Linked DNA regions of Homo sapiens. The gene in region 1 interacts genetically with each later gene. Each region holds a gene or a part of one and is shown in the gene's direction. Other genes may lie near its edges.

Evidence for each region.
Region 2: changes in POLN (region 1) and CIT together harm fitness less than expected from each alone (positive genetic interaction), as found in Homo sapiens cells (one large-scale study listed by BioGRID).

Annotation. Positions count from the first base shown.
Region 1 is NC_000004.12:2,207,598-2,211,423, reverse strand, and holds part of POLN (DNA polymerase nu), read left to right. Parts: intron 1-2,936; coding exon 2,937-3,437; intron 3,438-3,826. UniProt on the Homo sapiens protein: DNA polymerase with very low fidelity that catalyzes considerable misincorporation by inserting dTTP opposite a G template, and dGTP opposite a T template. Is the least accurate of the DNA polymerase A family (i.e. POLG, POLN and POLQ).
Region 2 is NC_000012.12:119,706,090-119,709,915, reverse strand, and holds part of CIT (citron Rho-interacting kinase), read left to right. Parts: intron 1-1,597; coding exon 1,598-1,737; intron 1,738-3,826. UniProt on the Homo sapiens protein: Plays a role in cytokinesis. Required for KIF14 localization to the central spindle and midbody. Putative RHO/RAC effector that binds to the GTP-bound forms of RHO and RAC1. It probably binds p21 with a tighter specificity in vivo.

The DNA of each region.
Region 1 (3,826 bases):
AATTGCAAAGTACATGATTTCTGCTCTATTGTTAATATTGACATTTTTACTGTTACATTACCATTTAAAATATATTCACGAAAATTAAATATGCACTTTGACAACTTGATATCCACAATCCTCTTATTATTATTATTATTATTATTATTATTATTATTATTATTATTATTATTTGGAGACGGAGTCTCGCTCTGTCACCTGCACTGGAGTGCAGTGGTGTGATCTCGGCTCACTGCAACCTCCGCCTCCTGGGTTAAGCGATTCTCCTGCCTCAGCCTCTGAGTAGCTGGGATTACAGGTGCCCACCACCACACCCAGCTAATTTTTGTGTTTTTAATAGAGATGGGGTTTCACCATGTTGGCCAGGCTAGTCTCGAACTCCTGACCTCTGGTGATCTGCCTGCCTCAGCCCCCCAAAATGTTGGGATTAAAGGCATGAGCCACCGTGCCTGGACTATTTTATTTATTTATTTATTTATTTATTTATTTATTTATTTATTATGTTTTGAGATGGAGTCTCTGTCACCAAGGCAGGAGTGCAGTGGCGCGATCTCGGCTCACTGCAACCTCCGTCTCCTGGGTTTAAGCGATTCTCCTGCCTCAGCCTCCCAAGCAGCTGGGGTTACAGGTGCATGCCATCATGCCCGGCTAATTTTTTTATTTTTAGTACAGACAGGTTTTCACCATATTGGCCAGGCTGGTCTTGAACTCCTGACCTCGTGATCCATCTGCCCGGGCCTCCCAAAATAGTGGGATTACAGGCGTGAGCCACCATGCCCGGCCTCTTTTTTTTATTATTATTATTATTATTATTATTATTATTATTATTATTATTATTATTTTGAGACTTTCTCACTCTGTCGCACAGGCTGAAGTGCAGTGTGGTGTGACCACGGCTCACTGTAGCCTTGACCTCCTGGGCTCAGGTGATCCTCCCACCTCAGCCTCCTGAGTAGCTGGGACCGTAGGCACATGACACCATGCCCAGCTAATTTTTGTATTCTTTGTAAAAGGACAGGGTTTTGCTATTTTGCCCAGGCTGGTCTTGAACTCCTGGGCTCAAGCAGTCCTCCTGCCTCAGCCTCCCAAAGTGCCAGGATTACAGGTATGAGCCACTGTGCCCAGCCCACAATCATCCCCTTAAAAAAGACAGAGTAAGATCTTCAACAGTTTGAAATTTTATATTTTTCTTTTTCTCCTTGAATTCCTTTTCTTGTTTACTCCTCCATGGAATTTTTAATGTAATTTTATGCTTGAAAGCCTACTCTTGGAAACCATATATTTCTCTGCAATAAAAATACAAGTATAAATTTAAAATTTTCATAACATGTGACCAAGTGTTAAAACATTTTCTTTCAAAATTATTTTAAAGGTAATGTTAATATAGTTATTCAAAGCCATATATATATATATATAAAGTAAATTTATATATATATATAAAGTAAATTTGAAAATAAGCCTTGGCTGGGTATGTTGGCTCACACCTGTAATCCCAGCACTTTGGGAGGCCAAGGCGGGCAGATTGCTTGAGTCCAGGAGTTTGAGACCTGCCTGGGGAACATGGTGAAACCCCATCTCTACTAAAAATAGAAAAATTCGCTGGATATGGTGGTGAACCCCTGTAGTCACAGCTACATGGGAGGCTGAGGTGGGAGGATTACTTGAGCCGGGGACATGGAAGTTGCAGTGAGCTGAGATTGTGCCACTGCACTTCAGCCTGGGCAACAGAACAAGACCCTGTCTCAAAAAAAAAAAAAAAAAAAAAAGGAAAAGGAAAGAAACCTTAAAAATAAAGTGTTATCGTAAATAAGTCCTATAATGAAATGGATAGGATTGCTTTCCCCACCTTGATTAGTTTGTGGATCTATGAATGCATATTGCACATTGATGGAATGAGAGAACTGCTATTGAGCTGGGTTTAATTTTTTTTTTTTTTTTTTTTTCTGAGACGGAGTCTTGCTCTGTCGCCCAAGCTGGAGTGCAATGGCATGATCTCAGCTCACTGCAACCTCCACCTTCCAGGTTCAAGCGATTCTCTGCCTCAGCCTCCTGAGTAGCTGGGATTACAGGCATGCTCCACCATGCCCAACTAATTTTTGTATTCTTAGTAGAGACGAGGTTTCTCCATGTTGGTCAGGATGGTCTCGAACTGTTGACCTTGTGATCCGCCAGCCTCAGCCTCCCAAAGTATTGGGATTACAGGTGTGAGCCACTGCACCTGGCCCAAAAACATTTTTTCAGTAGATAGATTAACATATTGTTAAATAGTTTTGGTGATTTCATTTTTCTCTGCAAATGGCTTTTACTTGGAAGTTGTAAATTATTAATCTTCTCTCTTATGCACATATGCAACATAATCCTATCCATGACATGTCTCATTACATGCACTGATTCCCAGAACAGGGGCCAGTTGGAGGCTTTTGAGCTTTTTTTTCGAGACAGAGTTTCGCTCTTGTCACCCAAGCTGGAGTGCAATGGTGCAATCCCAGCTCACTTCAGCCTCCACCTCCTGAATTCAAGTGATTCTCCTGCCTCAGCCTCCCGAGTAGCTGGAATTACAAGCGCCTGCCACCATGCCAGCTAATTTTTGTATTTTTAGTAAGATGAAGTTTCACCATGTTGGCCAGACTCATCTCGAATTCCTGACCTCAAGTGATCCACCCACCTCGGCCTCCCAAAGTGCTGGGATTACAGGCGTGAGCCACCACGCCTGGCTGGTTTTTGAGCTCTTGATCCAGATATGCATGCCTACCTTGGTTGAGAAAAATCACTGCTCTAGAAGACACTATAGGGTTTCCTTAGAAGGTTTGATCATAGGTAATATGAAGATTGTGTCTCCATATTACCTTAGACAAGTTTTTACCAGAAATTAGTTTAGTTTATAGATCTGTCTTATGAGTCCATATTCTAATGAAATATTTTCCATTTTTCTGTAGGATCTTAAATCTTTAAGAAGTCAGACATCAAGAGGTTCTGCCAAGCTGTCTCCTCAGTCCTTCAGTGTCAGGCTCACAGATCAGCTGTCTGCTGACCAAAAACAGAAGAGCATCAGCTCATTGACTCTTTCAAGTTGTTTAATTCCACAGTATAATCAAGAGGCTTCAGTTCTACAGAAAAAGGGGCATAAAAGAAAGCATTTCCTAATGGAGAATATAAATAATGAAAATAAAGGAAGCATTAATCTTAAAAGAAAACATATTACATATAATAATTTGTCAGAGAAAACAAGTAAACAAATGGCATTGGAAGAAGATACTGATGACGCCGAAGGCTACCTAAATTCTGGGAACTCAGGAGCATTGAAAAAACATTTTTGTGATATTAGGCATTTGGATGATTGGGCAAAAAGCCAGCTGATTGAAATGCTCAAACAGGCAGCAGCCCTGGTGATAACTGTGATGTATACTGATGGTTCCACCCAGCTAGGAGCTGACCAGGTTAGTAAACAGTGATGTTTTTATTTGCTGTCTTGACACCATAAAAGAAGCCCATTTTCTTAGTGTCAGATTTTGATAGGAGAGCTAGAAACAAGATTTTAAGGCTTTCCTTCCCCTCCAGTGGTAAGTGATTGACAATGTATGCTCCCATCAGTTTCTTAGGAAACTGTAAAACTGTTTTCCAGAGTGGGTGTACCATTTTACCTTCCACCAGCAGTGTACTAGGGTTTCAAATTCTCCACCTCCTTGTCAACACATGTTGTTGTCTGTTTTTTTAGCCATTCCAGTGATTCCGAAGTGGTATTTCATAGTGGTTTTAAATTGTATTTCCCTATTATCTAGTGACATTGAGCATCTTTTCATGTGCTTATTGGCCATTCATATATCTT
Region 2 (3,826 bases), on another chromosome or scaffold:
TTGCTCTGTTAACTCTGTGATCTCTCTCAAGTCACCATTTGCTAATATTTTGTCATAATTTTTTTCTCTGTCTTCTTAACACACACACACACACACACACACACACACACACACACACACACACACACTCTCTCTCTCTCTCTCTCTCTCTCTTTCCTGAACCATTTGAGAGTTAGTTGCAGGTATGACGCCAAGTTCTTCAGTATATCAACCTAAGGATTGAAGACATTCTGTCACATAACCAGGGTACAGTTTATTTCTCTCTGTCTGTGTTAGTGACATTATTTTTAAAGGGGAAAAGAGTAATATATCGATTCAGTGTTCAAAACAACAACAGTTAGGTCTTGTTTCAGGCATGGCTGGATCCGGGGACTGACATACTATGGACAAGAACTGGCCTTTCTTAATCTCAGCTCTTTTTCCTCCGTCTCTTCCTCTCTTCCTTATTTTATTCTTTAGAGCAGTTTTAGATTCACAGCAAAATTGAAAGGTACAGAGAGTTCCCATATACCCCCGTTCTCATATATGCATAGCCTCCCCCACTACCAACATCCCCCACCAGAGTGATACGTTCGTTAGAGTCAGTGAACCTACATTGACACATTGACAGTGACACATCATTGTCACCCCAAGTCTACAGTTTACATTATAGAGTTCTTTCTTGGTGGTATACATTCTATGGGTTTTGAAAAACATATAATGACATGTATCCACACATAGAGTATCATATAGAATAGTTTCACATACTATAATTTCTGCATTTAGGAAATTTACCCTTACTATAATACAAGTATCCGCTATGCTGCCCATAATTGGATTTTACCTGTGGCTTCTATAATGTCCCAGAATTTGCATTGCATTTAATCATGTCTCTCTAGTCTCCTTTAATCTGAACGGTTCCTCAGCCTTTTGTCTCTCCTGACATCCACATATTTGGATAGTCCAAGTCTGTTTTTTCATAGAATGCCTCCTCATTCCTCCCTCACACATTCGTTCTTTACTTTGCTGGGGAGCATGTTTGAAAGTACAGTTCACATTCTCCAATTTTATGTCTGCAGAATTCCACCCTCCTCAGAATCTTGACTAAAAGGCCAAATGTTATTGTCTTAGATTTAAATCATGGACTTGGGCCGGGCGTGGTGGCTCACGCCTGTAATCTCAGCACTTTGGGAGGCTGAGGCGGGCAGATCACAAGGTCAGGAGTTTGAGACCAGCCTGACCAACATGGCGAAACCCCATCTCTACTAAAAATACAAAAAAAAATTAGCCAGGCGTGGTAGCATGCACCTGTAATCCCAGCTACTCAGGAGGCTGAGGCAGGAGAATTGCTTGAACCCAGGAGGCAGAGGTTTTAGTGAGCCGAGATTGTACCATTGCACTCCAGTGTGGGCAACAGAGCAAGACTCTGTCTCAAAAATTTAAAAAAAAAAAATAAATAAATCATGGACCTAAAATGTGTTTATATGGATTTGTGGAAAACTCAGATCATCTGTGTGGCCTCTTGTGACTTTTACTTGTGACTAGAACTAGAACCACCATCCCGTACCTTTACTTAACGGCTTCACACTGACGAGAGGTTGTTCCTTTTCCTGTTCAGGAGAAGAGCGGGCACTGTGTCTTGTGGACGTGAAGAAAGTGAAACAGTCCCTGGCCCAGTCCCACCTGCCTGCCCAGCCCGACATCTCACCCAACATTTTTGAAGCTGTCAAGGGCTGCCACTTGTTTGGGGCAGGCAAGGTAAGCTCCCCTCAGAGTCCTAGCTGGTGGAATGTTCTGGAAATTGACACTACCTCTCTTCCCACAGAGCTCGTTGATTTGACCTTCAAGATAGTGTCAACTTAAATAACAAACAGAGAGGGGCTCTCTTGAAAGAAAAGAGATTGATTTGGGAACAGGGCTTTGCAATGGGAATACACGTGCCATTGTAAACTATGTGGGTATCTAGGGAGATAAAGGAAGACAGAGGTTTGTAAGTGAGGATTCCATAGTCTTTTTGAAATAATTATCCTTGGCTTCAAAGATTAATAACAAGACTGACGCTTGTCTAAGGTTGGACAGATAGTCACTGGGCGGATGTCCTTGCAGAAGTATTTTTTGTGTAAGATTGCAATGGCCTGGCCGGGCGCGGTGGCTCATGCCTGTAATCCCAGCACTTTGGGAGGCCGAGGCAGGTGGATCACGAGGTCAAGAGATCAAGACCATCCTGGCCAACATGGTGAAACCCTGTCTCTACTAAAAATACAAAAATTAGCTGGGCACGGTGGCGGGCGCCTGTAATCCCAGCTACTCGGGAGGCTGAGGGAGGAAAATGACTTGAACCCAGGAGGCGGAGGTTGCAGTGAGCCGAGATTGCGCCACCGCACTCCAGCCTGGTGACAGGGAAAAAAAAAACAGATTGCAATGGCCTTTGTGGTTTTCGTCGAGTCTCTTTTTTATCAGGCACACAAGTGTGAGAATCCTCTCTTCATGGCCTCCTCCTGCTCTAATGTCAGCGTTTTGTTAACATTGGCAGCTCCATTTTGATTCTGACAACTTTCACAATTGTACATCCTCAAACTAGGTTAAATTTCTGTTGCCTCCTTTAGGCACGTGAAATAATTTGTGTAGCCATGAAATTTGTACAGGTTTTGAATCTAAAATAAATGTCTGAGAGCAAAATGGGAATAAAATTAACAAAACTAGAAGGATGATCCATAATTTAAAAATAAGTGTGTTTGCATGTGCGTGTGTATGTCTGCTGTGTCTGTGAGAGAGAGATGAACCTTAAAAAAAATCTAATGTGGATCTCCATGTCTGAACTAGATGAAAGTATGTTTCATTACTAGAAATTTAAAAATTCGAATTTATGACATTTACATAACAAAGTTCATGAGAACTCAAGTTAATTCATTTGTAGCTTCTGGCATATTGAAAAGTGGCACATAAAATACCTTTGTTTGCTTCTTTAGTCAAAAAGTCAAAAAATAACAGATGCTGGTGAGGTCGTGGAGAAAAAGGAACACTTATACACTGTTGGTGGGAGTATAAATTAGTTCAACCATTGTGGAAGACAGTGTGGGGATCCTCAAAGACCTAAAAATGGAAATACCATTCAACCCAGCAATCCCATTACTGGGTATATACCCAAAGGAATATAAATCATTCTATTATAAAGTCACATGCATGTGTATGTTCATTGCAGCCTACTCATAATAGCAAAGACATGGAATCCACCTAAATGCCCATCAATGGTAGACTGGATAAAGAAAATGTGGTACATATACACCATGGAATATTATGCAGCTCTAAAAAAGAATGAGATCATGTCCTTTGCAGGAACATGGATGGAGCTGTAGGCCATTATCCTAAGCAAACTAATGCAGGAACAGAAAAACAAATACCACATGTTTTCACTTATAAGTGGGAGCTGAATGATGAGAACACATGGACACATAGAGGGGAACACACACACTGGGGCCCGTCAGAGGGTGGAGGGTGGGAGGAGGGAGGGGATCGGGAAAAATAACTAATGGATACTAGGCTTAATACGCAGGTGATGAAATAACCTGTACAACAAACCCCCATGACATGAGTTTATTGATACAACAAACCTGCACATGTGCCTGTGAACTTAAAAGTTAAAGTAGAAAATAATAAAAAAGAGTGTTTGCGGGTATATATACATGTACATGTATAACTTTAATTAAGTCTGAATCAGGTGTTTATAGACCCCCTGAGGCTACTGGCGTTCTGCTGTTGAAAACCATCGCATTTTGACCCTCAGAAGAGAGCACACTGCACATTTGTTCATTCAGCCGCTCAATCAACATTTTTTTTTTTTTTTTTT